Regions from separate parts of the Homo sapiens genome. Here region 2 is linked to region 1. The links come from fine-mapping of genetic effects on gene expression. A gene starts in region 1. The other region holds a variant in brackets. All regions are shown on one strand. Distances are between the middles of the regions.

Region 1 (16,579 bases):
ACTCATCCTTTTTAATGGCTGCATAGTGTTCCATGTTGTATATGTGCCACATTTTCTTAATCCAGTCTATCATTGATGGGCATTTGGGTTGGTTCCAAGTCTTTCCTATTGTGAATAGTGCTGCAATAAACATACGTTTGCATGTGTCTTTATAGTAGCACGATTTATAGTCCTTTGGGTATATACGCAGTAATGGGATCGCTGGATCAAATGGTATTTCTAGTTCTAGATCCTTGAGGAATCACCACACTGTCTTCCACAATGGTTGAACTAATTTACACTCCCACTAACAGTGTAGAAGGGTTCCTATTCCTCCACATCCTCTCCAGCATCTGTTGTTTCCTGACTTTTTAATGATTGCCATTCTAACTGGCGGGAGATGGTATCTTGTTGTGGTTTTGATTTGCATTTCTCTGATGGCCAATGATGATGAGCATTTTTTCATATGTCTGTTGGCTGCATAAATGTCTTCTTTTGAGAAGTGTCTGTTCGTATCCTTTGCCCACTTTTTATGGGGTTTTTTTTCTTGTAAATTTGTTTAAGTTCTTTGTAGATTCTGGATATTAGCCCTTTGTTAGATGGGTAGATTGCAAAAGTTTTCTCCCATGCTGTAATTTGCCTGTTCACTCTGATGGTAGTTTCTTTTGCTGTGCAGAAGCTCTTTAGTTTAATTAGATCCCATTTGTCTATTTTGGCTTTTGTTGCCATTGCTTTTGGTGTTTTAGTCATGAAGTCTTTGCCCATGCCTATGTCCTGAAACGGATTGCCTAGGTTTTCTTCTAGGGTTTTTATGGTTTTAGGTCTTACATTTAAGTCTTTACTCCATCTTGAATTAATTTTTGTATAAGGTGTAAGGAAGGGATCCAGTTTCAGCTTTCTACATATGGCTAGCCAGTTTTCCCAGCACCACTTATTAAATAGGGAATCCTTTCCCCATTGCTTGTTTTTGTTAGGTTTGTCAAAGATCAGATGGTTGTAGATGTGTGGTGTTATTTCTGAGGCCTCTGCTCTGTTCCATTGGTCTATATATCTGTTTTGGTACCAGTACCATGCTGTTTTGGTTACTGTAGCCTTGTAGTATAGTTTGAAGTTAGGTAGCGTGATGCCTCCAGCTTTGTTCCTTTGGCTTAGGATTGTCTTGGCTATGCGGGCTCTTTTTTTGGTTCCACATGAACTTTAAAGTAGTTTTTTCCACTTCTGCGAAGAAAGTCATTGGTAGCTTGATGGTGATGGCATTGAATCTATAAATTACTTTGGGCAGTATGGCCATTTTCACAATATTGATTCTTCCTATTCATGAGCATGGAATGTTCTTCGATTTGTTTGTGTCCTCTTTTATTTCATTGAGCAGTGGTTTGTAGTTCTCCTTGAAGAGGTCCTTCACATCCCTTGTAAGTTGGACTCCTTGGTATTTTATTCTCTTTGTAGCAATTGTGAATGGGAATTCACTCATGATTTGGCTCTCTGTCTGTTATTAGTGTATAGGAATGCTTGTGATTTTTGCACATTGATTTTGTATCCTGAGACTTTTCTGAAGTTGCTTATCAGCTTAAGAAGATTTTGTGCTGAGACAATGGGGTTTTCTAAATATACAATCATGTCATCTGCAAACAGGGACAATTTGACTTCCTCTTTTCCTAATTGAATACCCTTTATTTCTTTCTCTTGCCTGATTGCCCTGGCCAGAACTTCCAACACTATGTTGAATAGGAGTGGTGAGAGAGGGCATCCTTGTCTTGTGCCTGCTTTCAAAGGGAATGCTTCCAGTTTTTGCCCATTCAGTATGATATTGGCTGTGGGTTTGTCATAAATAGCGCTTATTATTTTGAGATACATTCCATCAACACCTAGTTTATTGACAGTTTTTAGCATGAAGCGCTGTTGAATTTTGTCAAAGGCCTTTTCTGCATCTATTGAGATAATAACGTGGTTTTTGTCATTGGTTCTGTTTATGTGATGGATTACGTTTATTGATTTGAGTATGTTGAACCAGCCTTGCATCCTAGGGATGAAGCCGACTTGATCATGGTGGATAAGCTTTTTGATGTGCTGCTGGATTCGGTTTGCCAGTATTTTATTGAGGATTTTCGCATCGATGTTCATAAGGGATATTGGTCTAAAATTCTCTTTTTTTGTTGTGTCTCTGCCAGGCTTTGGTATCAGGATGATGTTGGCCTCATAAAATGAGTTAGGGAGGATTCCCTCTTTTTCTGTTGATTGGAATAGTTTCAGAAGGAATGGTACCAGCTCCTCTTTGCACCTCTGGTAGAATTCGGCTGTGAATCCATCTGGTCCTGGACTTTTTTTGTTTGGTAGGCCATTAATTATTGCCTCAATTTCAGAGCCTGTCTATTCAGGGATTCACTTCTTCCTGGTTTAGTCTTGGGAGGGTGTATGTGTCCAGAAATTTATCCATTTCTTCTAGATTTTCTAGTTTATTTGCATAGAGGTGTTTATAGTATTCTCTGATGGTAGTTTGTATTCCTGTGGGATCGGTGGTGATATCCCCTTTATCATTTTTTATTGCATCTATTTGATTCATCTCTCTTTTCTTCTTTATTAGTCTTGCTAGTGGTCTATCAATTTTGTTGATCTTTTCAAAAAACCAGCTTCTGGATTCATTCATTTTTTGAAGGGTTTCTTGTGTCTCTATCTCTTTTAGTTCTGCTCTGATCTTAGTTATTTCTTGCCTTCTGCTAGCTTTTGAATATGTTTGCTCTTGCTTTTCTAGTTCTTTTAATTGTGATGTTAGGGTGTCGATTTTTGATCTTTTCTGCTTTCTCTTGTGGGCATTTAGTGCTATAAATTTCCCCCTACATACTGCTTTAAATGTGTTCCAGAGATTCTGGTATGTTGTGTCTTTGTTCTCATTAGTTTCAAAGAACATCTTTATTTTTGCCTTCATTTTGTTATTTGCCCAGTAGTCATTCAGGAGCAAGTTGTTCAGTTTCCATGTAGTCGTGTGGTTTTGAGTGAGTTTCTTAATCCTGATTTCTAATTTGATTGCACTGTAGTCTGAGAGCCAGTTTGTTGTGATTTCTGTTCTTTTACATTTGCTGAGGAGTGCTTTACTTCCAATTATGTGGTCAATTTTAGAATAAGTGCGATGTGGTGCTGAGAAGAATGTATATTCTGTCGATTTGGGGTGGAGAGTTCTGTAGCTATCTATTAGGTCTGCTTGGTGCAAAGCCAAGTTCAAGTCCTGGATATCCTTGTTAACCTTCTGTCTTGTTGATCTGTCTAATATTGACAGTGAGGTGTTAAAGTCTCCTATTATTACTGTGTGGGAGTCTAAGTTTCTTTGTAGGTCTCTAAGGACTTGCTTTATGAATCTGGGTGCTGCTGTATTGGCTGCATATATATTTAGGATAGTTAGCTCTTCTTGTTGAATTGATTCCTTTACCATTATGTAATGGCCTTCTTTGTCTCTTTTGATCTTTGTTGGTTTAGAGTCTGTTTTATCAGAGATTTATTTATCAGGATTGCAACTCTTGCTTTTTTTTGCTTTCCATTTGCTTGGTAGATCTTCCTCCATCCCTTTACTTTGAGCCTATGTGTGTCTCTGCACGTGAGATGGGTATCCTGAATACAGCACACTGATGGGTCTTGACTCTTTATCCAATTTGCCAGTCTTTGTCTTTTAATTGGGACATTTAGCCCATTTACATTTAAGGTTAATAATTGTTATGTGTGAATTTGATCCTGTCATTATGATGTTAGCTGGTTATTTTGCCCATTAATTGATGCAGTTTCTTCATAGCATCAATGGTCTTTACAATTTGGCATGTTTTTGCAGTGGCTGGTACCAGTTGTTCCTCTCCATGTTTAGTGCTTCCTTCAGGAGCTCTTGTAAGGCAGGCCTGGTGGTGACAAAATCTCTCAGCATTTGCTTGTCTGTAAAGGATTTTATTTCTCCTTCACTTATGAAGCTTAGTTTGGCTGGATATGAAATTCTGGGTTAAAAATTCTTTTCTTTAAGAATGTTGAATATTGGCCCCCACTCTCTTCTGGCTTGTAGGGTTTCTGCTGAGAGATCCGCTGTTAGTCTGATGGGCTTCCCTTTCTCGGTAACTCGACTTTTCTCTCTGGCTGGCCTTAACATTTTTTCCTTCATTTAAACTTTGGTGAATCTGACAATTATGTGTCTTGGCGTTGCTCTTCTTGAGGAGTATCTTTGTGGTGTTCTCTGTATTTCCTGAATTTGAATGTTGGTCTGCCTTGCTAGGTTGGGGAAGTTCTCCTGGATAATATCCTGAAGAGTGTTTTCCAACTTGGTTCCATTCTCCCCATCACTTTCAGGTACACCAATCAAACGTAGATTTGGTCTTTTCACATAGTCCCATATTTCTTGTAGGCTTTGTTTGTTTCTTTTTACTCTTTTTTTCTCTAATCTTGTCTTCTCGCTTTATTTCATTAATTTGATCTTCAATCACGGATATCCTTTCTTCCACTTGATCGAATCAGCTATTGAAGTTTGTGCATGTGTTACGAAGTTCTCGTGCCATGGTTTTCAGCTCCATCAGGTCATTTAAGGTCTTCTCTACACTGTTTATTCTAGTTAGCCATTCGTCTAACCTTTTTTCAAGGTTTCTAGCTTCCTTGCAATGGGTTAGCTCATGCTCCTTTAACTCAGAGAAGTTTGTTATTATCGACCTTCTGAAGCCTACTTCTGTCAACTCGTCAAAGTCATTTTCCACCCAGTTTTGTTCTGTTGCTGGCGAGGAGCTGCGATCCTTTGGAGGAGAAGAGGTGCTCTGTTCTTTAGAATTTTCAGCTTTTCTGCTCTGGTTTCTCCCCATCTTCGTGGTTTTATCTACCTTTGGTCTTTGATGTTGGCTTGGTTTTGGTGTGGATGTCCTTTTTGTTGATGTTGATGTTGATGCTATTCCTTTCTGTTTGTTAGTTTTCCTCCTAACAGTCAGTGCAGGTCTGCTGGAGTTTGCTGGAGGTCCACTCCAGACCCTGTTTGTCTGGGTATCACCAGCAGAGGCTGCAGAACAGCAAATATTGCTGCCTAATCCTTCCTCTGAAAGCTTCATCCCAGAGGGTCACCCGTCTATATGAGGTGTCTGTCTGCCCCTACTGGGAGGTGTCTCCCAGTTAGGCTACACGGGGGTCAGGGACTCACTTGAGGAGGCAGTCTGTCTGTTCTCAGAGCTCAAGCGCTGTGCTGGGAGAACCACTGCTCTCTTCAGAGCTGTTAGATAGGGATGTTTAAGTCTGCGGAAGTTGTCTGCTGCCTTTTGTTTAGCTATGCCCTGCCCACAGAGGTGGAGCCTGTAGAGGCAGTAGGTCTTGCTGAGCTGTGGTGGGCTGTGCCCAGTTTGAGCTTCCTGACCATTTTGTTTACCTACTCAAGCCTCAGCAATGGTGTATGCCCCTCCCCCAGCCAGGCTGCAGCCTCGCAGGTCGATCTCAGACTGCTGTGCTAGCAGTGAGCAAGGCTCCGTGGGTGTGGGGCCCTCTGAGCCAGGCACAGGAGAGAACCTCCTGGTCTGCTGGTTGCTAAGACCGTAGGAAAAGCAGTATTTGGGCAGGAGTGTACCGATTTTCCAGGTACCGTCTGTCATGGCTTCCCTTGGCTAGGAAAGGGAAATCCCCCAACCCCTGTGCTTCCTGGGTGAAGTGACACTCCACCCTGCTTTGGCTCGCCCTCTGTGGGCTGCACCCACTGTCCAACCAGTCCCAATGAGATGAACCAGGTACCTCAGTTGAAAATGCGGAAATCACCCTTCTTCTATGTCGATCACGCTGGGAGCTGCAGACCGGAGCTGTTCCTATTTGGCCATCTTGGAATGGACCCATCCATGTTATTATATAAATAAATAGCTCTTAAACTTGGAAACATTTTGACCATTGTTTCTTTGAATATGTTTTCTGTCCCTCTCCACCCGCTTTGAGGACTTCAAATCCACGTATATTAAATTGCATGAAGTTGTCTCAGACTTCCTGATGTTCTGTTATTTTTTCTCTCTGAGCTTCATTTTGCATAGTTTCTATTGGCATATCTTCAACTTCATTGATCTTTTCTTCTACAATTTATAACCTGCCATTAATCCCTTTCAGTGTATTTTTCATACCAGGCATTGTAGTTTTTTCAGTCATTATAAGTTCAATTTGTATCTATTAAATGTTTCATGTCTCTATTTAACTGTTTGAACACAAGAAACACAGTTATAATGTCTATTGTAATGTCCTTGTCTGGAAATTCTAACATCTGTATCATTTCTGGGTTCGTTTCAGTAGATTGGTTTTTATCCTTATTACGGGTTATATTTTTCTGCTAGTCTGTTCTATGAGCTCTGTTATGGATTGAATTGTGTTTTCTGTTCATTTACATGTTGAATCCCTAATCCTCAATATGACTGTGTCTGGAGATAGGGCCTTTATTATAAAGCTATACTAATTAATATTGTAGAGTTTTGTTATATCAATAGAAAGACAAATGGAACACAACAGAAAGTCCAGAAACAGACCTTTAAAGATATGAAACAAACTCAAACATATTATGAAACACATGATGAAGATGGTACTTCATAATCAGAGATAAAATTATGCATGGTTTTAAAAAATGGTATCTGGACAGCAGGCTACCCATTTAGAAATGGATAAGTTAGATTCCTTTCTAAAATCATGGAATACTTGAACAAAACCATAAGAGATAAGAAAAAAATGGAAAATCATGAAATCCAAATGTATCAAATATAAAAAGTGAAAATGAAGTTACAATAGAGCATGAAATAAAAATAAAAGTTATTATGCAGATGTAAGTTTGATTTTAAGGTTATCCATAATATATTATTACACAAAAAAAACTTACACACTATAGGGTATAAGTCTAGTTTTGTAAAAAAAAATGTATATGCTTACATAACGCATTGGACAGGACTCTTTGGTTGCAAGAAACAGAAACTCATCCAATTAAATTCAAATGAAAATAAGAGATTTTCATTTTTGTGTTCACATAACCAAACCAAGAAACACAGTGTCTGTGGGGAATGGAACTCAAGTTCAACAGGATCCAGCACTCAAAGGCACCAGGACTCACTTTCTGTCTCTTCATTTTTTGTTACAGCTTCTGTCTCTGTGCTGGTCTTATTCTACTGGGGTCTTCCACATGACAGAGGAACTGGTTACTAGCTGCCCTATAGTCATATCTTTAGGTCCCTCAGTTTAGGGAGAGAGGAGAGCTACCTTCCTACCCAAACCCTGGGCACCCATCATTGCAAGTTGTCACTCCTACACCTGCGGGTATCTAGGATCAGCAGCCCCATTTGAATCACAAACTGAAAAAATTTCCCAATGGAGGGGGATTTTTGGTATCAGAAATGCAGGAGAGGTTGGGCGCAGTGGCTCACGCCTGTAATCCCAGCACTTTGGGAGGCCAAGGCAGGTGGATCACAAGGTCAGGAGATTGAGACCATCCTGGTTAACACGGTGAAACCCCGTCTCTACTAAAAATACAAAAAATTAGCCGGATGTGGTGGCAGACGCCTGTAGTCCCAGCTACTCAGGAGGGTGAGGCAGGAGAATTGCTTGAACCCTGGAGGCGGAGGTTGTAGTGAGCCGAGATCACGCCACTGCACTCCGGCCTGGGCAACAGAGTGAGACTCTATCTCAAACAAAAGAAAACAAAACAAAAAAACAAAAAAGAAAGGCAGGAGAGGTGGGGAAGGATGCTAGGGAAAATAAGCAGGAATTGTGTTGTGAATATGTATATAATATATGCATAGTTATGATTAGACACAGCTATGGCTATAGATATAGATGTGTATACATATACACGTGGGTGGTTAGGAAGACTGAACTATGGGTACAACATTTGTTTTCTCTACGATGGTTTTGTTGTGTTTTGTTTTGTTTTGAAACAGAGTCTCACTCTATCACCCAGGCTGGAGTGCGGTGGCACAATCTCAGCTCACTGCAATCTCCACCTTCCAGGTTCAAGTGATTCTCCCGCCTCAGCCGCCCGAGTAGCTGGGACTACAGGCACCCACCACCATGCCTGGCTGATTTTTGTATTTTTAGTAGAGACGAGTTTCACTTATGTTGGGCAGGCTGGTCTCAACCTCCTGACCCCAGGTGATCCACCCACCTTGGCCTCCCAAAGTGCTGGGATTACAGACATGAGCCACTGCACCCAGCCTATGGTGGGTTTTTTTCTTACTTGGATTTTTTTCTATAATTAATTATCATTAATTATATAATAAATAAAAGATTTAAAAAGAAACTATGCACATTTTTTTTCCCAAAAGCCTTTCATTACTTTCCTGACATAGATTTGCCCTTCCCACTGAGGCTATAGGCATGAGTTCTTTGACTTATGACGTAGTCTGGGGCAGCCTCCTCTGCCGGGTACACAGCAGCTCTTCCATGTGGCTAGGTTGCCAGCCTATTTACATATCACACTATTTATGATGGCACTGGGTGAAATACCCTGATCAGTAGGGTCTGGCTTATTGTCACTGTTCCAAAGAGACCTGTCCTCATATAATGTCATAAAAGAGGAACCCGTTATCAGGGTCCAAGGAGACCTGGGAAGGCCCCTATAGTGTCGTCAGTCATTTTTAGTCTCGGGAGAGCCTTCCCTTCTCCCCAGCATTAAGGATGTCATATTTTTTCAACAATAGGAAAACCATTCCTGAGGGCAGGGTCTGTGGTTGTCTTTTTCCTTGCTGTGTCCTGGTACCTAGTGCACAGCAGGACTAGAGGAGTGAATGGTGCCACCTATGCTCCTTGGTTTCTCTGCCCTATCCCCTGTGCCCAGGGCGCATGTCCGGAGGGTGGCATGGAATCCCTTGATTTTTTGGAGGCTGTGGGCCAAATCCCGCATCACATCACAGGAGTCCCTATGTAAGCCAGGTGTGACCAGCTGTAATCTCCTCTCATTTCAGAGTCATTCTCCCCTCCTCCCTCTCTTCTCCTTCCCTGTCCCCACTCCGCAATTTGGTGTTCACTCTACTTTCCTCCATGACTTGACTGAGGGACTTGGGTGACTCCTCCCTGGAGATGACTCTTGGCACTGCTGGAGCATTTCATACAACCCAGGTCTCTGTTCCAGTCTTGTTGATTAAACCCATGGTTCTCCTCCAAGCATAAGGCTGGGCCCAACCATAGTCTCAACCAGAGAAAGGGAAAAAGTGACCAAGCTGTTTTCTTCCTCCATCCTTATCCAGAGAAAATATTAGAACCCCAGGAACACAGGAAGAGGAGAAACTAAAAAAATGAGCACAGACTTCCCGTTCTCATCACAGCGGTGATTTTTTTGGTCACTAGGTCTGGCCAGAGTTCCTCTTCTGTTTGGAAGAGCAGGGCATTGTCTGAGTGCCCGGGAGAACTGCCCACCTTCCTGACTGGAAAGTGTGGCCAAGGCACCTGCCTGCTTCTCTGTCTTTTCTCCTGCCAGGCCAGGTGCCAGATAGAGCATCCAGAGGTTTGCACAGGAGAGGTGCTCAGGAAAGACCTGTAGATGAGCATGATAATAGGAAGATGGCTTCTGACTCCCTCCCTCTCCACAAAGTGGGAAATGAAACTTCCTATGGTTTGGGACTTTTACATCCACCTCCTCTGAAACCCCAGAAGGCCCACAGCCCAGGATTCCATGCCTTTGCTCAGCTTCCTCATGCTGGAACAGCCTTTCGCCTAGCGGTAGCTATTCTACCTACCTCAGCCTGCATTTCCATCACTTGGAGTAAATGCTCCCTGCTCCAGCCCCTTCCTATGCCATGGGCCCAGCCGCTAAGGCTTCCTCATCCTTTCCTGGGACCAATGAGAGGGCATCTGGGGGGCTCTATAAAGTATAACTCATACCACAAACCAGCAGAGAAAACCCAACTTCCTGACCGAGCGGAAATGGACAAGACACTTCCCAGGCACACTGTGTGGCGGCTTCTTTCCCGCAAATGCCTCAGGAGGAGACATGGACCCCTGCAAGGCCCCTTCTACCAGGGTCTTGAGTAATTTGGATTCTTCTCTATCCCCAGGCCCAGAAATAGGACAGGCTATGGATGAAGGGCCAGGAGCCAGGAGCAGAAGGGCAGAGATGATTCTGGAGTTAGGCTGGGTCCCAAGCATGAGAGTCCAGAAGTGGAACATTCTAATCCTGTCTAAGCCCTGATGGAACCAAGGCTCTGCAACCACACGAGCCACCTGAAGAGAGTAGGAATCTTCATGGACACCCAGAGGCAGGCAGTGATGTGGAGCCAGGCCCTCATATTCGGGACTATCAAATGTTAAAATTTAGAGCAGACAGCAGGCCTGGAAGTTACAGACAGGCTGGGTAGGGAAGCGATGGGACAGAACAAATGAGACACCATCTTTGCTACCCAGTTTCCTTCCCAGAGCTTCCCAGTGTGGGGTCCTCTCTGGGTTCCCTCATCCAGTCCGAGAAGCCACTCCAGCCTGAGGCCCGGTTAGCTGGAGAGAGAGCATCAAGGGCCTGTAACTACAATGAGCTGCACATAGGCATGGGCTGAGCGTGCAGCCACTATCCTCCCAAGTACCAAAGGTGGCAGTAGCCCCTGAAAGCATAGGTAGATATTTCCTTGGCCCTGTTAACTTAACCTCTAATCCTGGTCCCTGATACAGGCTGTCATCCAGCTCCACTGGCTCAGCCTCAGCAGGCCCAGGACAGCTTTCTTTTCCTGCGGCCAGAGCTTTTGTTCATTCCTGGGTAAGGAGTAAATCACACTTCCCCTTATGCTTTTGCATTGAAGATGAATGAGAACTTCTGGAGACAGTGGAAAAAAGCAGCAGCTTCTAGAAGGCAGATCCCAGGCCCCAGACTGTGTAAATGTCTGAGTGGCATGATCAGCTATCAAGTCTCCAAGTCACTTACCATTCACACATCCATCCATGCATCCTCTATCCATCCATTCATCCATTCACCCATCCTCCAATTATCTGGACCAATTTCCTTCTTTTTTCTTTCCTTCCCTCCCTCTTTCCTCTCCTCTTTCCTATATTCCAAGAAATATTTGTCTAGAGTCTGCCATGTGCCAAATTTCTCAGATTTGGCAGACTTCTTCAAAGCATGAGAAGCCGCCCAGGAGAAAATTTAGTCCTTCATTGAGCCCAAATCAGCTCTTCTGTGCCCTGAGCTTCTTGCACATATGGAACTCTCTATTTAGGACTACAAAGAAGGAGAGAGGAGGTGCGGACAGAGAGAGAGGAGAGAGAAACAGAACGATTCCTAGTCTGAGGTTGCTGAGCGCCCCTACTTTTTTTGAAAATCTCACATGGTGCAGGAAGCAGGGAGGAGAACCCAAGTCTTAGGTTTACACTTTGAATCTCCAAGTTGCATATTATAAAGGGATATTGTATCAGCCAAGATGCATTAATAACAGGAAGCAGGATATTCTATTGCAATGGTTGCCTATTTGGTATCTCTGCTTCCAGGCTTCTCCCCACCAGTCTGCTCCTCACCAGGATCAGAGTGATGTTTCTACAGTGTCCCTGTCCTTGTCTCTCTCCTGCCTGAAGTCCTTAATTGGCCCCATGTCACCCACAAGCCAGAGGTCCAGCTCCTTGACATGATCAGAAGGATCTTCATCATCAGACCCCAGGTGCCTCTTCAACCCCGTGTGCATCCCCTTCCTGTTGGAATGTATATTTTACATTCCAGCAATATTGCAACTATTTACAATTTGCCAAGCACTCCATGCTATCTTATGCTCCATCCTTTGGCATATGCTTATCTTTCTACTGGATTTTTTTTTTTCCCATTACTCCATTTCATATGCTTCTTTGAACTGGGCATATTTGTCTCTTGTGCTCATCACCTTGCAATTTATTTGCTCATGTCTGTCTTTCCTACCAGACTATGAGCTGCTTGGTGCAAGGACTGCGAGTTATTCATCACTGTGGCCCTATGCCTGGTAGAGCATCAGTACCTAGAAGGCACTCAGCCTGTATTTGTGGGGTGAATGGATGGGTGGATGGATGACGAGAGTCTTACAAGAGAAATGGGATAGGTTTGGGACAAGATGGTTAATGTATCCATGTAACAGACCCCCAGAGAAGACAACAAATGGCCTCTTCCTGAAAGCTCAGACTTCTGAGGATGGGAGTAAGCCAGACAAGGTATCTAGTCAGGAATAGGGAAGTTGGGATGATATGGTGACCTGCTGTGGGACTGACTTCCTGTTTCCTCTAGATAAGAGCCCTTGGAGAGACAGGCAGCCAGAAGCACCTGTGCTCCCAGGATAAGGGTGAGCACTCAGGATGACTGTGGAGAAGGAGGCCCCTGATGCGCACTTCACTGTGGACAAACAGAACATCTCCCTCTGGCCCCGAGGCAAGCCACATCGCTGCTGAGAACCTGCTCCGTGTTCTGTGTGCAAACCTGCCCTTTGCTGCTCCTTCAACACACATTTTCTTCTTCTTCCAACAGAGCCTCCTCCCAAGTCCGGTCCATCTCTGGTCCCGGGGAAAACACCCACAGTCCGTGCTGCATTAATCTGCCTGACGCTGGTCCTGGTCGCCTCCGTCCTGCTGCAGGCCGTCCTTTGTAAGTCCTCATGTTTCATCGTCTGGGCTTAGCCCCTCTCTGTGGCCAGCCGGCTCCCTTCAGATCGAGACCACTTCCCTGCTCTCCGGGTTTCTCCTGCCTGTGGCTTTTTCATTTGTCTCCTTCCTCCTCTTTCCATGTGCAGTAACAGGCTGTGCTGCCCCCAGTACGGTGAGCTGATGCTCTTTCCCTCCCAATTTCTGGGAGATTATTGGGATTAGCATTTGCACATTGGTGCTCAAGGATACATTCTTTTGTCCTCAGGAAACATTGATCTAGTTTTACATCCTGTGCTATTTTCTCCCCGTCCACCCCCCACCAATCTGAGCTCTGCTCCTTGGATCTAGAGCCTTGTGGACAGTCCTTGACAGTGCAATGTCTCCTGACCCTGTGAAGGACCGAGCCTCATGTATCATTGGCCCCAGCTCACCAGATGGAGAGCCTGGCCAACGAGCCAACAGATCTCCATGACTCAGTCCCCTCTCCCCAGGACTCGTTGGTGCTGTCTTCATTCTCCTGTCCCTGTGAAGATCACATCTAGGGAGGCTTCCTGCTCATTTGATGTTGCATGGTTTATCTTTCTTCCTTTTCTGGCTCTGTCAGGCTTCATGGCCTTTGCTGCTGGCAGAGCCTTCTTCCTCCTGCCAGGGCTCCAGGAAGCAGAGCAAAGGGACCCAAGAAGCTGTTGGGTTTTTTTTTCTCCCTCTGTGGCCTCGGGACATATTTGGGCTTAGACTTGTAGGCTCTGAGCAGAGTCCCCCTTGCCCCATCCTAGACCCCTGGCCTCTAACATCGCATTTTCCTCAGGGCTCGCCTTTGAGCCTCTTGGTTTATCTTTGATCCTCTCTCTGGTACCCAGGCCTGGGACCTGAGCAGAATGTGAAAGTGGGTGGGGCAAGGGAAGGGGAGAAACAGTTTTGTAATCTCCTCTTCCATGTTCTCTGGAGAAGCCACTTCCAGATTAGTGGCTGGTTCTTCCCATGGTCACAGAGGGGCCCATGGACAGATGTGGGGGAGTGGTGCTGTCCTAGCAGATGGCCACTGCAGGGGTTTCTGAAAACAGAGGGATGGCAACCAAGGGGTGGGGTCTAGGGGGAATCAAGTTCTGGGGACAGTGGTGGGGCTCATGGAGGGCACCCTTTATCAAATGTTCCCTGAACACTCAGAAAATTCAGGAATGGTTTCTAACTCCTGCTTCTGCTTGCCTGTGAAATCTTTTCACAGAGAGCCTGTGTTTTATCAATCTCCCCATTATCTGTATCCACCTGTGTTCCTGGCACATGGTAGGTGCCCATTGCACGTTTGTTGTACGTTAATGAATGATTGGAGGGTTGGGGTGGCCCATTGGACTGTCTTGGTTCTTTGGGAAGCTTCAGCCTATTCCTTCCCTTCCTTTGATCAACCTGACAACACCCCCACTCCTGTCCCTGGGACTCCCCTCAGCTGACCTCCTGACTTTCTCAATCCCAGATCCCCGGTTTATGGGCACCATATCAGATGTAAAGACCAATGTCCAGTTGCTGAAAGGTCGTGTGGACAACATCAGCACCCTGGATTCTGAAATTAAAAAGAATAGTGACGGCATGGAGGCAGCTGGCGTTCAGATCCAGATGGTGAATGAGAGCCTGGGTTATGTGCGTTCTCAGTTCCTGAAGTTAAAAACCAGTGTGGAGAAGGCCAACGCACAGATCCAGATCTTAACAAGAAGTTGGGAAGAAGTCAGTACCTTAAATGCCCAAATCCCAGAGTTAAAAAGTGATTTGGAGAAAGCCAGTGCTTTAAATACAAAGATCCGGGCACTCCAGGGCAGCTTGGAGAATATGAGCAAGTTGCTCAAACGACAAAGTAAGTGACTCAGAAAATTACATTGAAGCTGACCAGTGGCCCATGGGATCTTACCTGTCCCAGACCTGAGGCCATTGGGCTGGTGGGTTGGGGAGGAGAGTGGGGGCAAAAGAGGGGCAGCCATGGGCTAGGAAGTTAAGGAGAGAGGGCTTGAGGTTGGGGAGGACTTAGGGGCTGTTAGGAGAAAAGAGACCAGGGTCCAGCTAGAGCTCCCACACAAAAGTGCAGAATGTAAAAGCATTAGGGGATGTCCACCCTGGCCCACACCTAGTCATTTCCCATCAAGTTCCTTTCTAGAGTCCAGGGGCTCAGCCACTTGTCATGGCCGATGGAGGGTTGCTTCCTCATCATGGGGAAGACACTCTTTGTCCAACCTCTTGCATTATAACCTCTCCAGTCCCAGAGACTCTATTAGTCTCTGTCTGACTTTCAGGATTTGAAAGAGTGTCCCTAATCTCCTATACAAGGACCCAAGGACACCAGCGCACAGCTCCATTTGCTGCTGTCTCTGAGACCTCATTCAAGTGCCCCCACCAAGCCAGCATCCCAAGAAATCAAGAATACCAGCGTTCACTTTTACCTCTTGTTCTCTAGATGATATTCTACAGGTGGTTTCTCAAGGCTGGAAGTACTTCAAGGGGAACTTCTATTACTTTTCTCTCATTCCAAAGACCTGGTATAGTGCCGAGCAGTTCTGTGTGTCCAGGAATTCACACCTGACCTCGGTGACCTCAGAGAGTGAGCAGGTGAGTGCTGTGCCTATGGGCTCTGTGAAGGGGGCGTATGAGCACTGGGCCAGGGAGGATGGGCAAGATTATACTGCGTGAACAAAAATCCCCAAATATTGATGACCTAATGAAGAAGGATTGGTTCTCAGTAGCATGTCGAATAAGGGCCGGCAAGGGGGCTGTGCTCACTGTGGCTACTCAAGGACCCAGGCCCAAGGAGTCTTCATCTTAATATGTCTCCACAATTGCTGGGGCAGGAAAGGGGAACTTGACATATTGTGCAAAGCTTCTGCCCAGATTTAACATACCTCATTTTTGCTTACATTTCACTAGCTTAAGTTATGTTAATTAAGTTAAGTAAGTTATGCAGTACTCCTGGATTGGGAGGATCCTGGATTCCAGTACTCCTGGAACAGGGCAGAGAGGATCTACTTTCCATGTGCCCAGAAAAAAAGAAATATTTGTGAACAGCCTTAATGATTCCACATGACTCAAGAAGTCTCCTGCCTGGTGAGGCAGAAATTGGGCAGGCCCTTTTCATCTGGGAGGTGGGATAGCAGAGCAGGTCAGAGCCTGGGCTCTGGCGTAGTTCTAGAGCCTGAACCTTGCCATCTAACTAGTCCTAGCAGCTTGGGTGGAATACCCAACTTCACTGGGCAAACTTCACTGGCCCTCACTTGATGAAACATGCATGGTGATGGCACCTGCCTCAGAGGAAAGGAGAGAATGCATATGGACGACTCAGCACAGTGCCGTATGTGGATTCAGGGCTCATTTAATTCAGGTATTATCATATGAACCATTCTCTTGCGGTCCGTGCTCTGGAGTTCAGCTGAGGCCTTCCTGTGCTTCAGCACCTGCTTCCTGAGTGGCAGAAAGGCTTGAGTCCTGAGCTTGTTAGCTGCAGAGCAGGGACACATCATAATCTGGAAGATGAAATCTGGGCTCTGGGCAAGGGCAGGAAGAAGCTTGAGAGGCCAGTTTGTGCAGCGCATCTGTGGGTCAGGGCTGTCACTGAGCGCAGGTGAAGAACACCCAGAGACAGATGATCAAGCTCCAAGTGTGGCCGCACCTCTGCTTATCCTGTCTTTCCTACAGGAGTTTCTGTATAAAACAGCGGGGGGACTCATCTACTGGATTGGCCTGACTAAAGCAGGGATGGAAGGGGACTGGTCCTGGGTGGATGACACGCCATTCAACAAGGTCCAAAGTGTGAGGTAAGCCCCTGGAGCCCTCCGTGCCAGCCTGACTTTCCCCGGCCATGGCCAGGGCATGAAGGGAGTGGGGGCGATGTTCCCCATGAGACAGGGTTTCTGATTCTTCCCTGTCTTAGAGTGACAGGAACATTGCAACCAAGATCGAGCACAACCCTGTCACCAACTGGCTGTGGACCTGAGCCCTCCACGCCCTCTGGGGTTTGGCAACAAGGCCTTCTACCTGGCCAGCTTCAGGGATCTTGTCATGAGTCTAGGTCTTCACAGTGTGGGTTTGTGTAGGG
Region 2 (16,579 bases), 44 kb before region 1:
ATCATTTCCCAGGCATTTCCCACGTGATGCTCCTGGAAAGCTCAGGGTGCAGTTTGGATCACTGGGACTGCTCTCTGGACTGTCTTTGGGGAGGGGCCTGGAGGTCAGCATGGGCGGCCTTTATATCCTTTGATACCTTTTGAATTTGTGGTGTGTTAAAAGTCAAACAAATCCAGTAAAACACAAATTTAAATGTCATTGTTAGAATGGATTTGAAGCATTTCGTTTCTGTGTTTCCATCAAGGGCAGTGGCTCACCTTTCCTTCCTGACTGTGCCTCAGAGAGGTTGCCTACAGTGACTTACCACTTAGGCAGGTCTTCTTTTCGTCTTTGCCACTAGTCACTACAAAGTAGGCAGGTCTCCTTTTCATCTTTTTGTCCTTTTTGTCTTTGCCATGCCTTCTGTGCAAGCCAGAACACTGTACATTCAAGGTCACTAACCACCTGTCTCCCATGTCCCCAGTGCTAGGAAACCCTCAGGTTTAGGGCCCTGTTGCCTCAAGCAATAATCATTTGCGATCAGTGATCTGTGTCACCTGCAAGCGGGTTCCAGACTGACCTTGGCAATCAGGAGCCAGGCATCTCTGGCACCTCTTCCTAGGTCACCCTCTCTCTGGTTTCCCCTTCACCATGTGAGCCAGAAGCTCTGCTCTCGGGCTCAGGTGGGTCCCAACAAGCATCCAAGGCCTGTCTGCTGAGTGGCCTATTGTCCATGGTGAATAGGAGGGGTTACCTAGGGACTGAGTCTCTAGGAGCCACTGGCCTGGGTGGGACCAGGCTAGAGGAATTCTCTATCTCTTGACCCTGGGAGAGGACTTTCAAAATGCAAGGGTGAGGAGCTGAATGACAGCCTGTTTTGGGTGACTGTTGGGCCTGTGTGGGAAGGCACTGGCCACTATCCAAGGCCCTCTAGAGGTGGCAGCCTCGGGGGCCCGTCCTCTTACCCCAAGATGCTGCTAGGAATTTATATCTACTGGAAACAGTTCTCCAGGAGCTGTTGCACATTCTTTGAAATATTTGTCATCTAACAAATGTTTATTGAGTTCCTAAAATATGCCAGGCACTAGGGGACAGCTGTGAGCCAAACAGACTCGAATAGTCGGTCATGTAGCCTATATCACTGGAGATGGCCAACCTTCCAGGGGCAGTCAGACTGATACAGGGCCAAGGCTGGAACCCTGGAGTTTGATCTTTGGGGGTGGGAGAAGCATGCTACCTGGTTGTTTACATGTTGCACATACCAGGGGATAAGTCTAAGTATCCGATTTTTTTTTTTCCTGGCTAGAAAACAGCCTCTGAAAATAACTCCCCTTAAATAAATGCTTTTTACTAAGCCTCCATGGTCCTGTAATAAACACCAAGAAGGGGAGTACAGTGCTTTGTGTTGGGTTCAGTTTGCTTACAAAACAAAACAAAACAACCCCAAACAAATGTGCAGACCCTTGCCTTGGAGGTGTTTGTGTGTGTGTGTGACCTGTGTTTGTAAATGTGTGTAGTGTGAACTAATTTCATCAACTTTTAAAATAATGACTTTTACTATTTTTTTTTTAAGAGACAAGGTCTCACTCTGTCGCCCATGCTGGTTGCAGTGACACGATCACGGCTCACTACAACCTTCTACTCCTAAGCACAAGCTATCCTCCTGCCTCAACCTCCTGAGTAGCTAGGACAACAGGCAGGCACCACCACACTCGCCTAATTTTTTATTTTTTATTTTTTTGCAGAGACGAGGGTCTCGTTATGTTGCCCAGGCTGATCTGGAACTCCTGGCCGCTAGGGCTTCTCCCTCCTTGGTCTCCTAAACTGTTGGGATTACAGGTGTGAGCCACCCCGCTCTGCCTTTTCTTTTTTTTCTTTTTCTTTTAAAAGGAAAACATGCATCTAAGAAAAAATTCTAAGCAGCACAAAAGATTAAGAAATGACTACCAGGTGTCTCTCCAGAATCTCAGCCCCATCCCTAGAAGCTCAAGCTCTCGTCCCATCTCACTCTCCGGTTTTAAAAATGAGATCAAGTCGCCCTGTCCGCGGTTCTTCCTGCCTGCCCGCCTCGCCGGCCTGGCTCTGGCTCCTAGCGGCGGGTCTCCTGCTTACCTTTCCTGCGCCCTCACTGCGCGCCAGCCACTTGGGAGAGTGCTTGCTTCCCCACAGCGTCGCCAGTTTGGTGTGTTACCGAAGATTTTGATCTTTGTGGGTCCGATGGGTTTCTTAAAGAAAGACATGAATTATGCTAGGGAAACAAGAGGAAGCAAGAGAAGGGCAGAATGTTTGAGGCAAGAGACGCTTTGCTTGGGTCCTGGGGGTGCGAGCGCGGGCTGGGGACAATGCGGGGGCAGTAGTTGCCTGAGCTCCAGATCACACCTGCACTCAGAGGCGGGAAGCCCTTATCCTGGTCACAGCCGCGCGAGCGGAGAGAGGCGGCGGGGCGGCGGGGTCAGCGGGAATTAGCGCGCCAGGGCCGGGGCGAGGGATTGCCGCGGGGCGAGAGTTCGGGACGGGATTAGCGGGTTCAAAAGCAGGTCAGGGAGAGCTAAGCAAGGCGACGAGGTCCGCGCGAGGTCAAGGTCCCCGAGAGAGGCGGGTTCCGGACTGGGCTCGGGAAAGGCAGCGGGCATTGCGATCGCGGGGAGGCTGCACCGGGAAGCCCAAGTTCCGAGCGCGTGGAGGGCTCGGCCGGCATTCGAGTGTAGGCCGCGCCCTCTGACGGCCGCGGGGCGAGGACACCTCTGACCATGGGCCTTGGTCGGGAGGAATGAGCGAGGGGCGAGGTGAACCCGGGTACGAGTGCGCGGCAACTTCAATGAATGTATCCGAGGTCGCCAGGCGCGCGCGCCGCAGATCTGCGGAACCGGGTTTATCTATTCGTCTTTTACATCGTAATCCCGTTTCCTTTTATTTTTACAACACTTTTTTTTTTCTGGCAAGGGAAGTCATCTCTTAGGCAAACAAACAGTCAAAAATAAAAATAAAAAACCGCACTGAACAATGCAAAGAAATGTTCTTGGCAGGAGCCAGTCTCTCCCGCGTCTCCTGGCACCTGTGGCCTCCCTGCGGAACAGATCCCAGAGTGTGACACCTTCTGTGTAAAAATAATCGCAACCCACACTCCACCCTTCTGTGCGTCCTGCACACGCACCAAGGGAGAGCTGGAAGGACAGCCGAGGGATACACGCTCTTCCACGAAATAAATATGTTTTAGGGGTGTGTGTGTGTGTGTGTGTGTGTGTGTCTGAGCCTCTGACTTGAAGTTATTGGAGAAGGTATTCACACATTATTTGGGTTCTCTCTTAAAGAGCTCTTGGGTTCTCTCTTAAAGAGCTCATGGGAAACACACCTGGCGGTACTGTGGGATGCGAAGTGGGCGCCTCACTCGGAAACCCCGGCCTTGGTGGATGATCTAAGAAAAAAAAAAACCCAGATGGACGGATACATGGGCACTTTCGGGATCGCTGGGTGCAGGCCGCCGTCGCCATTTCCACCGTCCACTACTCCAGGCACCTGCCTCTCGTCCCCAGCCTTGGCCTTTAGGTCTCCCTTCCCGCAGATGTCGCCTGGAGAAATGGAGCCCGGATGCTCAGGCGCGCGGCGTGGTATCCCCAAACCCGGGACCTCTGTTTTGGGTCTGGTTGATTTTCCACGGAGAACCGAAGAGTCCGCTCCTCAGGGGCGAAGTTTGCAAGTCCTTGGGGTAGATGGTGACGGGGGCTGGGGCGCGAGTGTGAAAGGACAGGAAAGGAAGGAGAGGGGAGAGAGAAGCAGGCTGAGAAGTGGGGGAAGCCGCGGAAGCCGGCAGCGCGGGAGCGGAGACGCGGAAGCCGGGTAGGGGGAGGGGCGGACTGGGACCAGGGCGAGGGGCGGGGCCGGAAACGGGCGGACTCGCGCCCTAGACAAAGCGCGGCCCGGTGGGCGAGGGCCAGCTGCTCTCCCCGCAAGGTCTCCCGAAACCGGGCTTTCGCTCGGCCAGCCGGCTGGTTCTGGTGGGGACGCGCAGGTTGCTAGTGGGGAAGCCAGTCCAAAGGGATCGATCGCCGGAGAAACCCCACGCATTCACCCAAACAGCCTTCGGCTCAGGGTGGCCGGAGCAGAGCCCAAGGGTCAAGGGCGAGGGGCCCCTTCCCTGCCCTTTTGTCCAGGTGGACTCTGTGGCCGTCGTTTTGTTCTGAGACCCCCTGGGAATGCCACTGCCGGGCCACAACCCCGACTGGCAGGTCAAGGTGCAGGAAGTCCCGCCATTAGAAATGCATTCCCCAGGCTGATATTACCTTCTTTTTCTCAGTTTTACAGTCATATACACAATGGTAAGACTCCTCTTGACGCCACTTCCAACCTCTGTGCACTGTTCGCATGGCTAGAACAGCAATAATAGAATTGAAAGCAGGAAAAATATCCCCGTGCTACCCCTAAAAGACTCAGTCTTTTTTTTTTTTTTTTTTAAATGTGCATCTTTATTTTGCATAATGTTAGTCCTGGTGAACATGTAGTTTTGTATTCAGTCTTTTCTACTTGAGGCCACACTTCAGTATTTGCTATGTGCTATGATCCTCATAAGTATACTTTTCAATGGCCGAGTAATGCTCTATTATGTTACTGTGTAATTTACTTAACCGTTCAATTACTTGATATTCTTCCGTGTCCAGTTTTTCTGTATGAAAATAATACACAACCTAAAATCTTCGTGTATATAGTTTTCTCCTTTGGGGAGGATTATTTCTTCAAGATTCTTACTGTTTCAGCAGGAAGGGGACATTTTCACTACTCTTAATAAATTGCCCAACCGCTTCCCAAAGCAATTTACGCAGGCATTTATTTTCGGGTCATTATGGGCGTGGTGCTACCGGTCAGGAATGTCCAGACTAAATCAGTCCCACCCTTAGAGCACTTTCCCTGCACCCCAAGCCTCTGGGAGGCAGGCCCTTGGAGCAAAAATTACCGCGCAAAGTGGGCAGCACGGTAGGGAGAGGAAAGAAGAGGCAATGGGAGCCGGGGAGTGGGTGAGGGGTGTGGGGGTTCTTTCCCCAGCCTGGAGAAAGTCAGGTAAGGCTTCACCTGACTTAGCAAGGAAGTGAAGGTGACTCCCGAGTACAGCCCCAGGCAGGGGTTTGCCAAGTAGAAATGGAGAGAGAAACATAGAAACCTTTGTCTGCGCAGGCTGCAAAGTTTGTTGGGTTTGGAGAGGTACGTAGTGGTTATACGCTGCGAGGGATCATAAATGTGGGTGGAAAAGTCCAGGAAAGTGGGATTCTCGCCATCCAGTCCAAGGAAATTGGAAACAGACAGCCTGGTTATTGTGCATTTGCATTATTTTAAACGGTTGCTGTATTAATAGAGGCATGATTACATAATCATTATTGTTGTAAATTATGTTTTACTGAAAACTAGTTTACATTTCCTTATTTAAAAATACTAATTGTCTTGCTTTCTGACTCTTGAGGCTGAAGAAAGAAATAGGAATTGTCCTTTAAGAAACAATTTCTTCTCTAAACCACAGTAATATGTATTTTAAATCATAAAAGCAATACATATATTATTTGATTTTTTAATAAGAATATATTCACATAAGATTAATTTAAAGATTATAAGTGAACACAAACTCATAAAATAATCAGACAAGTGTCTACAAGTCCTTCCTTAATCCTCTGTGCAGAAGTAGCATGGCTTATAGTTACTACGTTGCATATGTGAACTATTTAGATGTTTTTTGCAACAATGATTTATATTCCCTGCCACTCTGCAAATTGCCTTAAAAAAATAGGTCATAGTTTTCTTACATGTTAATGGAAGTAGCTCTATCTCATTCCTAGCAGCTGTCTTGGTAACATTATATAGATGTTCCATCATTTTTTTGTCTGTATTAAAAAATTACATATTTGTTTATGTGGTTGTATTTTATATAATAAAAGTTCAAACAGTGCCAAAAGATAAAGATAAAACATGACACCTCCCTTCATGCTTGTCCCTACTTCTACCCCATCTCATTCCTCAGAAGTGTGAAGTGAGAAGTTTGGGGATTGTTTCGGCAGCTCCCCTCCCTAGTCTGTTTTAAAAATAGTGTATTTAGGCCGGGCACGGTGGCTCATGCCTGTAATCCCAGCACTTTGGGAGGCCGAGGTGGGCCGAGGTGGGCCGATCACCTGAGGTCAGGAGATCACCAGCCTGGCCAACATGGTGAAACCCCGTTTCTACTAAAAATACAAAAATTAGCTGGGCGTGGTGGCTAGCGCCTGTAATCCCAGCTACTCCGGAGGCTGAGGCTGGAGAATCGCTTGAACCCGGGAGGCGGACGTTGCAGTGAGCCGAGATCGCACCATTGCGCTCCAGCTTGGGCGAAAAGAGTGAAGCTCCGTTTAAAAAAAAAATTGTGTGTTTAATCTTTTTAGACTGAGCACTCACGCACTCACATTCTCCTCCCTGAATTTCACAACCCCCTCCTCCAAACCACTGGGTTGTATTTGCTGTTAGTCTTTGTTGTCATATATTCTCACAAAATAAGCTCTTTTTTTTGGTGTGCGTTTTTATTGTATGTACATGGTATTGAGTTTTATATTTCATTTTAAATATTATTTAAAATTGTTAAAAACAATTTCAAATTTATGGGAAAGTTGCAAGAATATTACAAAACTCTAGTATTGTCTTTAAGCTGCAATTGCATTATCATTCTCTTTTAAAATTATTTTTATGGAAGCATTTGAGGATAAGTTGCAGACACCATGCCGTTTTACTATTAAATACTTTCGCGTGCATTTCCTGAGGGCCATCACCTACATGCCACATTGCAGTGATTAAAATTAGGAATCTTAACATTGATATATAATCTTCAGATCTTATTCAAATTTCATCAATTGTCCCAATAATATCCTTTATAATATTATTATTTTTTTCTGGTCCCAGATTTAATTCAATATTACCCATTGCATTTAGTTTTTAAGTTCTTGTTAGCCTCCTTTACCTGGAAACAGTTTATCA[G/A]CTTTTTTTGTGTATGTTTGTAACAGATATTTTTGAAGAATATGGACCAGTTAGTTAGATTGTATATATTGGAGTTCCTTGTTTTATTTTGAACAGTCTGAAACTTACAGAGAAATTGTCAAGAGCATTACAAAGAAACCCCCTCCTCCACTTACCTGTTTGAACTCAAGTTGCTGACATAATGCTTTATTTTGTATTTCTAACAAACAAGGACATTCTCCCTTGAAATCGCAATGCAATCATCAAAATTAGAAAATTAATGCTATCACAATTGACTCCTCAGACCCCCTTGTCAATGGTTCTGCAAATGTCCTTTATTATCAAAAGGATGCAGTAAAGATGTATTGCAGTCAGTTGTCACGTCTCTTTAGTCTCCTTCAATCTGTGACAGTTAGTTCCAGTCTTTGACTTTCACGGCCAGTTATTATGTAGAAAGCCCCTCGGTGTGGATTTATCTCATGTTTCCTCACAATTCAATTCAGACTATGCATCTTTGGCAGGAATATCACAGAAGTGATATTGAATTCTTCTCATTGTGTCCTATCAGATGGTACATGATTTTGATATATCCTGTACTGGTGATGTTAACTTTGATCATTTGAGTGAGAATTAAGTTTCTCCCTGTAAGGTTATTTTTCCCTTTGCATTTAATAAGTATTTTGCAGGGAGGAACTTTTAGACTATCTATATATCCTGCCCCTCATCAAGCTCTTTGTGCATTGTTTAGATCAATATCAACAAATGGATTCCTAATGTATTCAATAGGCTATATTTTGTTACTATATTATTTATTTAATTTGTGAATTGTCCCAAATGTCCTTTTTTGGGGGTAATAGCTTTATTGAGATATCATTCATGTATCATACACTTCACCTATTTAAAATACACTGTGTAATGTTTTTTAATATGTATATTCACAGAGTTGTACAACCACTCCTATAATCAATTTTAGAACATTTTCATCATCCCCAAAAGAAATCCCATTCCTGTTAGCTTTCACCTCCCAATTCTCCCATCCCTGCCAGCCCTAGGTAACTATCTACATTGTGTCTCTATAGATTTGCCTATTCTGAACATATCATATAAATGGAATTGTTCAATATATGGTCTTTTGTGACTGACTTCTTTCCCTTACCATAATGTTTTCAAGGTTCATCCGTATTGTAGCATAAATCAGTACTTCATTTTTAATGGATGAATAATTCCATTGTATGGACATACCACAGTTTATCTATTCGTCAGTTGATGGACATTTGGGTTGTTTCCACTGTTTAGCTATTATGAATACATCCTGCTGTGAATGTTCTTGGAGAAGTTTTCGGTGGCCATATATTTTCATATCTCTTGGGTACATACCTAGGAGTGGAATTGCTAGGTCAAACAACTAATTCTATCTTTAAATTTTTGAGGACCTACCGCACTGTCTTCCAAAGTGGCTGTCCCATTTTACATTTTCCCCTAGCAATGAATAAGAATTCCAATTGTTCCACATCCTTGGCAACACTTGTTATTGTCTGTTTTTTCAATTATAGCCATCCTAGTGGATGTGACTTTGTATTTCAATGTGGTTCTTATTTGCATTTCCCTGATGACTAATGATGTTGTCTATCTTTTCATGTGTTTCTTGGCCATTTGTATATCTTCTGTAAAGAAATATCTATTTATGTCCTTTGCTCTTTTTCACATTGGGTTATTTGTTTTTATATTATTGAGTTTTATTATTTATTATTTATATTTTTAAGGTAGAGTCCTCTAGTTGCACAGGTTGGAGTGCAGTGGTGCAATCATAGCTCTCTGCAGCCTCGAAATCCTGGGCTCAAGTGATCCTCTCACCTCAGCCTCCTGAGGAGCCAGGACTACTGGTGTGCACCACCATGCCCAGTTAATTTCCCATTTTTTGTAGAGACAGAGTCCTCCTATATTGCCCAGGCTGGAAGAGCTTTTTCTAGTTTTCTTCTTTTCTGTATTTATGCTACCTTCTCGAACAGTGAGAAATCTGTCTCCTATTTTCCTCAGTATGTATATTTGATCAGTTTCCTGGTGTGTAACGAGTTTCCTGTGGCTGCATTGCCTCTCTGTGCCCCACCCCCACTGAGGAGACTCTGCTCACCCCACTGTGGCTGAGGTATCTGATGCTGACACTGTGTGGATGTCTCCCTGCTTGGATCCCAACACACCCATGCGGATTCACCATGGCAGACACTCTCCCTTATGGGGATGCTTACCTTGCTTGGCCCTACCTAATGGCTTTTGGATGACATTTTCAGGAAGGGAAGAGCAACTATATATATATATAAAAAATTGTATTTTTTTTGCCACATCAATTGACTCTTTTTTTTATGAGAGATTTCTCTGTAGCATGAGATGCTGTTTGACAGCATTTTACCCACGATAGAACTTCTTTCAAAATTGGAATCAGTTTTCTCAAACTCTGCTGCTGCTTTATCAACTAAGTGTATGTAATATTCTAAACCCTTTGTTGCCATTGCAAATAATGTTCACAACATCTTCACTGGAAGTAGATTCCATCTCAAGAAACCACTTTCTTTGCTCAACCATAAGAAGCAACTCCTCATTCATTCAAGTTTTATCATGAGATTGCAGCAATTCAGTCGCATCTTCAGGCTTCACTTCTTTTTTCTTTTTTATACTTTAAGTTCTAGGTACATATGCATAACATGCAGGTTTGATACATAGGTATACATGTACCATGTTGGTTTGCTGCACCCATCAACTCATCATTTACATTAGGTATTTCTTCTAATGCTATCCCTTCCCCAACCCCCCACCCCCTGAGAGGCCCCGGTGTGTGATGTTCCCCACCCTGTGTCCAAGTGATCTCGTTGTTCAATTCCCACCTATGAGTGAGAAAATGCAGTGTTTGGTTTTCTGTCCTTGTGATAGTTTGCTGAGAATGATGGTTTCCAGCTTCATCCATGTCCCTGCAAAGGACATGAACTCATCCTTTTTTTATGGCTGCATAGTATTCTGTGGTGTATATGTGCCACATTTTCTTAATCCAGTCTATCATTGATGGACATTTGGGTTGGTTCCAAGTCTTTGCTGTTGAATAGTGTTGCAATAAACATACGTGTGCATGTGTCTTTATAGCAGCATGATTTATAATCCTTTGGGTATATACTCAGTAATGGGATCGCTGGGTCAAATGGTAACTCTAGTTCTAGATCCTTGAGGAATTGCCACACTGTCTTCCACAATGGTTGAACTAATTTACACTCCCACCAACAGTATAAAAGCATTCCTATTTCTCCACATCCTCTCCAGCATCTGTTGTTTCCTGACTTTTTAATGATTGCCATTCTAACTGGCATGAGATGGTATCTCATTGTGGTTTTGATTTGCATTTCTCTAATGACCAGTGATGACGAGCATTTTTTCATGTGTCTGTTGGTTGCATAGATGTCTTCTTTTGAGAAGTGTCTGTTCATGTCCTTTGCCCACTTTTTGATGGGATTGTTTGTTTTTTTCTTGTAAATTTGTTTGAGTTCTTTGTAGATTCTGGATATTAGCCCTTTGTCAGATGGGTAGATTGCAAAAATTTTCTCCCATTCTGTAGGTTGGCTGTTCACTCTGATGGTAGTTTCTTTTGCTGTGCAGAAGCTCTTTAGTTTAATCAGATCCCATTTGTCTATTTTGGCTTTTGTTGCCATTGCTTTTGGTGTTTTAGTCATGAAGTCCTTGCCCATGCCTATGTCCTGAATGGTATTGCCTAGGTTTTCTTCTAGGGTGTTTATGATTTTAAGTCTAACATTTAAGTCTTTACTCCATCTTGAGTTAATTTTTGTGTAAGGTGTAAGGAAGGGATCCAGTTTCAGCTTTCTACATATGGCTAACCTGTTTTCCCAGCACCATTTATTAAATAGGGAATCCTTTCCCCATTTCTTGTTTTTGTCAAAGATCAAATAGTTGTAGATGTGTGGTGTTATTTCTAAGGGCTCTGTTCTGTTCCATTGGTCTATATGTCTGTTTTGGTACCAGTACCGTGCTGTTTTGGTTACTGTAGGCTTGTAGTGCAGTTTAAAGTCAGGTAGCATGATGCCTCCAGCTTTGTTCTTTTTGCTTAGGATTGTCTTGTCAATGCAGGCTCTTTTTTGGTTCCATAAGAACTTTAAAGCAGTTTTTTCCAATTCCCTGAAGAAAGTCATTTGTAGCTTCATGGGGATGGCATTGAATCTATGAATTACTTTGGGTAGTATGGCCATTTTCATGATATTGATTCTTCCTATCCATTAGCATGGAATATTCTTTCATTTGTTTGTGTCCTCTTTTATTTCATTGAGCTGTGGTTTGTAGTTCTCCTTGAAGAGGTCCTTCACATCCCTTGTAAGTTGGATTCCTAGGAATTTTATTCTCTTTGCAGCAATTGTGAATGGGAGTTCACTCATGATTTGGCTCTCTGTTTGTCTGTTAATGGTGTAGAGGAATGCCTGTGGTTTTTGCACATTGATTTTGTATCCTGAGACTTTGGTGAAGTTGTTTATCAGCTTAAGGAGATTTTGGGCTGAGATGATGGAGTTTTCTAAATATACAATCATGTCATCTGCAAACAGGGACAATTTGACTTCCTCTTCTCCTAATTGAATACCCTTTATTTCTTTCTCTTGCCTAATTGCCCTGGCCAGAACTTCCAACACTATGTTGAATAGGGGTGGTGAGAGAGGGCATCCTTGTCTTGTGCCTGTTTTCAAAGGGAATGCTTCCAGTTTTTGCCCATTCAGTATGATATTGGCTGTGAGTTTGTCATAAATAGCTCTTATTATTTTGAGATATGTTCCATCAACATCTAGTTTATTGAGAGTTTTTAGCATGAAGCACTGTTGAATTTTGTCAAAGGCCTTTCTGCATCTATTGAGATAATCAAGTGGTTTTTGTCATTGGTTCTGTTTATGTGACGGATTATGTTCATTAATTTGCATACGTTGAACCAGCCTTGCTACATTTATTGATTTGCATATGTTGAACCAGCCTTGCATCCCAGGGACGAAGCTGACTTGATCATGGTGGATAAGCTTTTTGATGTGCTGCTGGATTCGGTTTGCCAGTATTTTCTTGAGGATTTTCGCATTGATGTTCATCAGGGATATTGGTCTAAAATTCTCTTTTTTTGTTGTGTCTCTGCCAGGCTTTGGTATCAGGATGATGTTGGCCTCATAAAATGAGTTAGGGAGGATTCCCTCTTTCTCTATTGATTGGAATAATTTCAGAAGGAATGGTACCAGCTCCTCTTTGTACCACTGTTAGAATTCGGCTGTGAATCCATCTGGTCCTGGACTATTTTGGGGTGGTGGGCTATTAATTATTGCCTCAGTTTCAGAGCCTGTTATTGGTCTGTTCAGAGATTCAACTTCTTCCTGGTTTAGTCTTGGGAGGGTGTATGTGTGCAGGAATTTATCCATTTCTTCTAGATTTCCTAGTTTATTTGCACAGAGGTGTTTATAGTATTCTCTGATGGTAGTTTGTATTTCTGTGGGATTGGTGGTGATATCCCCTTTATCATTTTTTACTGCATCTATTTGATTCTTCTCTCTTTTCTTGTTAGTCTTGCTAGTGGTCTATCAATTTTGTTGATCTTTTCAAGAAACCAGCTCCTGGATTTATTGATTTTCTTAAGGGTTTTTTGTCTCTCTATCTCTTTCAGTTCTGCTCTGATCTTAGTTATTTCTTGCCTTCTGCTAGCTTTTGAATTTGTTTGCTCTTGCTTCTCTAGTTCTTTTAGTTGTGTTGCTAGGGTGTTGATTTTTGAACTTTCCTGCTTTCTCTTGTGGGCATTTAGTGCTATAAATTTCCCTCTACACACTGCTTTAAATGTGTCCCAGAGATTCTGGTACGTTGTGTCATTGTTCTCATTGGTTTCAAAGAACATCTTTATTTCTGCTTTCATTTCGTTATTTATGCATTAGTCATTCTGCAACAAGTTGTTCAGTTTCCAAGTAGTTGTGCAGTTTTGAGTGAGTTTCTGAATCCTGAGTTCTAATTTGATTGCACTGTGGTCTGAGAAACAGTTTGTTGTGATTTCTGTTCTTTTACGTTTGCTGATGAGTGTTTTACTTCCAATTATGTGGTCAATTTTAGAATAAGTGTGATGTGGTGCTGAGAAAAATGTATATTCTGTTGATTTGGGGTGGAGAGCTCTGTAGATGTCTATTAGGTCTGCCTGGTGCAGAGCTGAGTTCAGGTCCTGGATATCCTTGTTAACCTTCTGTGTCACTGATCTGTCTAATATTGACAGTTGGGTGTTAAAGTCTCCTGTTATTATTGTGTGGGAGTCTAAGTCTCTTTGTAGGTCTCTAAGGACTTGCTTTATGAATCTGGGTGCTCCTGTATTGGCTGCATATATATTTAGGATAGTTAACTCTTCCAGTTGAATTGATCCCTTTACCATTATGTAATGACCTTCTTTGTCTCTTTTGATCTCTGTTGGTTTAAAATCTGTTTTATCAGAGACTAGGATTGCAACCCCTGCTTTTTTTTTTTTTTCTTTTGCTTTACATTTGCTTGGTGGATCTTCCCCCATCCCTTTATTTTGAGCCTATGTATGTCTCTGCATGTGAGCTGGGTCTCTTGAATACAGCACACTGATGGGTCTTGACTCTTTGTCCAATTTGCCAGTCTGTGTCCTTTAACTGGGGCATTTAGCCCATTTACTTTTAAGGTCAATATTGTTATGTGTGAATTTGATCCTGTCTTTATGATGTTAGCTGGTTATTTTGCCTGTTAGTTGATTCAGTTTCTTCCTAGCATTGATGGTCTTTACAATTTGGCATGTTGTTGCAGTGGCTGGTACCAGTTGTTCCTTTCCATGCTTAGTGCTTCCTTCAGGAGCTCTCGTAAGGCAGGTCTGGTGGTGACAAAATCTCTCAGCATTTGCTTGTCTGTAAAGGATTTTATTTCTCCTTCACTTATGAAGCTTAGTTTGGCTGGATATGAAATTCTGGTTGAAAATTCTTTTCTTTAATAATGTTGAATATTGGCCCCCACTCTCTTCTGGCTTGTAAGGTTTTTGCTGAGAGATCTGCTGTTAGTCTGATGGGCTTCCCTTTCTGGGTAACTCGACCTTCCTCTCTGGCTGCCCTTAACACTTTTTCCTTCATTTCAACCTTGGTGAATCTGACAATTATGTGTCTTGGGGTTGCTCTTCTTGAGGAGTATCTTTTTGGTGTTCTGTGTATTTCCTGAATTTGAATGTTGGTCTGCCTTGCTAAGTTGGGGATGTTCTCCTGGATAATATCCTGAAGAGTGTTTTCCAACTTGGTTCCATTCTCCTCATCACTTTCAGGTACACCAATCAAATGTAGATTTGGTCTTTTCACATAGACCCATATTTCTTGGAGGCTTTGTTTGTTTCTTTTTACCTTTTTACTCTAAACTTCTCTTCTTGCTTTATTTAATTAATTTGATCTTCAATCACTGATATCCTTTCTTCCACTTGATTGAATCAGCTATTGAAACTTGTGCATGCATCACAAAGTTCTTGTGCCATGGTTTTCAGCTCCATCAGGCTATTATGGTCTTCTCTACACTGTTTATTCTAGTTAGCCATTCGTCTAATCTTTTTTCAAGGTTTTTAGCTTCCTTGCAATGGGTTCGAACATCCTCCTTTATCTCGGAGAAGTTTGTTATTACAGACCTTCTGAAGCCTACTTCTGTCAACTTGTCAAAGTCATTCTCCATCCAGCTTTGCCTCTGTTGCTGGCAAGGAACTGCAATTCTTTAGAGGAGAAGAGGCACTCTGATTTTTAGAATTTTCAGCTTTTCTGCTCTGGTTTCTCCCCATCTTTGTTGTTTTATCTACCTTTGGTCTTTGATGTTGGTGACCTAGAGATGGGGTTTTGGTGTAGATGACCTTTTTGTTGATGTTGATGCTATTCCTTTCTGTTTGTTAGTTTTCCTTCTAGCAGTCAGGTCCCTCAGCTGCAGGTCTGTTGGAGTTTGCTGGAGTTCCACTGCAGACCCTGTTTGCCTGGGTATCACCAGCGGAGGCTCCAGAACAGTGAATATTGCAGAACAGCAAATATTGCTGCCTGATCCTTCCTCTGGAAGCTTTGTCCTAGAGAGGCAGCTGCCTATATGAGGTGCGTGTTGGTCCCTACTGCGAGGTGTCTCCCAGTTAGGCTACACGGGGGTCAGGGACCCACTTGAGGAGGCAGTCTGTCCATTCTCAGAGTTCAAGCGCCGTGCTGGGAGAACTACTGCTCTCTTCAGAGCTGTCAGACAGGGACATTTAAGTCTGCAGAAGTTGTCTGCTGCCTTTTGTTCAGCTATGCCCTGTCCATGCAGGTGGGGTCTAGAAGCAGTAGGCCTTGTCGAGCTGCAGTGGTCTCCACCAAGTTTGAGCTTCCTGACCGCTTTGTTCACCTACTCAAGCCTCAGCAATGGTGCATGCACCTCCCCCAGCCAGGCTGCCACCTCGCAGATGGATCTCAGACTGCACGCTAGCAGTGAGCAAGACTCCGTGGGCATGGGATCTGCCAAGCCAGGCACGGGAGAGAATCACCTCATCTGCCAGTTGCTAAGACCTTGGGAAAAGCACAGTATTTGGGTGAGAGTGTCCCGTTTTTCCAGGTAGTTTGTCATGGCTTCCCTTGGCTAGGAAAGGGAAATCCCCCGACCCCTCGCGCTTCCTGGGTGAGCCGCCCTGCTTCAGCTCGCCCTCCGAGTGCTATACCCACTGTCCAACCAGTCCCAATGAGATGTACCAGGTACCTCACTTGGAAATGCAGAAATCACCCATCTTCTGTGTCGATCATGCTGGGAGCTACAGACTGTAGCTCTTCCTATTCGGCCATTTTTTTTTTTTTTTTTTGATGGAGTCTTGCTCTGTCACCCAGACTGGAGTGCAGTGGTGCAATCTCAGCTCACTGCAACCTCTGCCACTTGGGTTCAAGCAATTCTCTCACCTCAGCCTCCCAAGTAGCTGGGACTACAGGTGTGCAACACTACACCCAGCTAATTTATGTATTTCAGTAGCGACGGGGTTTCACCATGTTGGCCAGGCTGATCTTGAACTCCTGACCTCAAGTGATCTGCCTGCCTTGACCTCCCAAAGTGCTGGGATTACAGGCACGAGCCACCACGCCTGGCCCCATGTTATATTTTTAAAGATCCATCTCTGTTGCTTCAGATGGCTGTATAACTCTCCATGGTGTGCAACCACTTCATTTTACTTCTCTGCTCTCCCAAGATTAGATATCTAGGTGGTTCCAATAACTCCCCTGCCTCCTCAAATAATGCCATAACAGGCTGGGCATGGTGGCCCATGCCTGTAATCCCAGTACTTTGGGAGGCCGAAGCAGGTGAATCACCTGAGTTCAGGAGTTTGAGACCAGCCTGGGCAACATGGTGAAACCCCATCTCTACAAAAAATACAAAAATTAGCCAGGTGTGGTGGTATGTGCCTGTAGTCCTGGCTACTCAGGAGGCAGAGGCAGGAGAATCACTTGAGCCCAGGAGGTGGAGCTTGCAGTGAGCCAAGATGGTGCCATTGCACTCCAGCCTGGGCGACAGAGCAAAACCCTGTTCAAAAAAAAAAAGCCACAACAAACTTCCTTGTACAGGTTTCCCTAAGCATCTGTGGGAAAATATCTTTGGGATCTATACC

Which allele goes with the higher level. Positions count from the first base shown, and alleles are read on the strand shown. Sizes are in standard deviations (SD) of each study's normalised expression.
In carriers of allele G in region 2, the expression in left ventricle of the gene that starts at base 12,183 in region 1 tends to be higher than with A alone (small effect, 0.36 SD a copy in GTEx).

Evidence for each region.
Region 2: its variant is fine-mapped to the expression of CD207 in left ventricle (GTEx, PIP 0.98).

What each region holds. Positions count from the first base shown.
Region 1 is chr2:70,831,420-70,847,998 of GRCh38, reverse strand. It overlaps CD207 (CD207 molecule), which reads left to right and starts at 12,183. Exons shown (of 6, transcript NM_015717.5): 1 at 12,183-12,295; 2 at 12,392-12,508; 3 at 13,979-14,353; 4 at 14,948-15,099; 5 at 16,180-16,298. The coding sequence starts at 12,223. RefSeq lists an enhancer at 16,287-16,579.
Region 2 is chr2:70,875,101-70,891,679 of GRCh38, reverse strand. It overlaps LINC01143 (long intergenic non-protein coding RNA 1143), which reads right to left and starts at 3,809. Exons shown (of 4, transcript NR_126384.1): 1 at 3,500-3,809; 2 at 3,332-3,394; 3 at 2,092-2,204; 4 at 1,696-1,859. RefSeq lists an enhancer at 3,302-3,952. The variant G/A (reference allele first, on the strand shown) is at 6,961.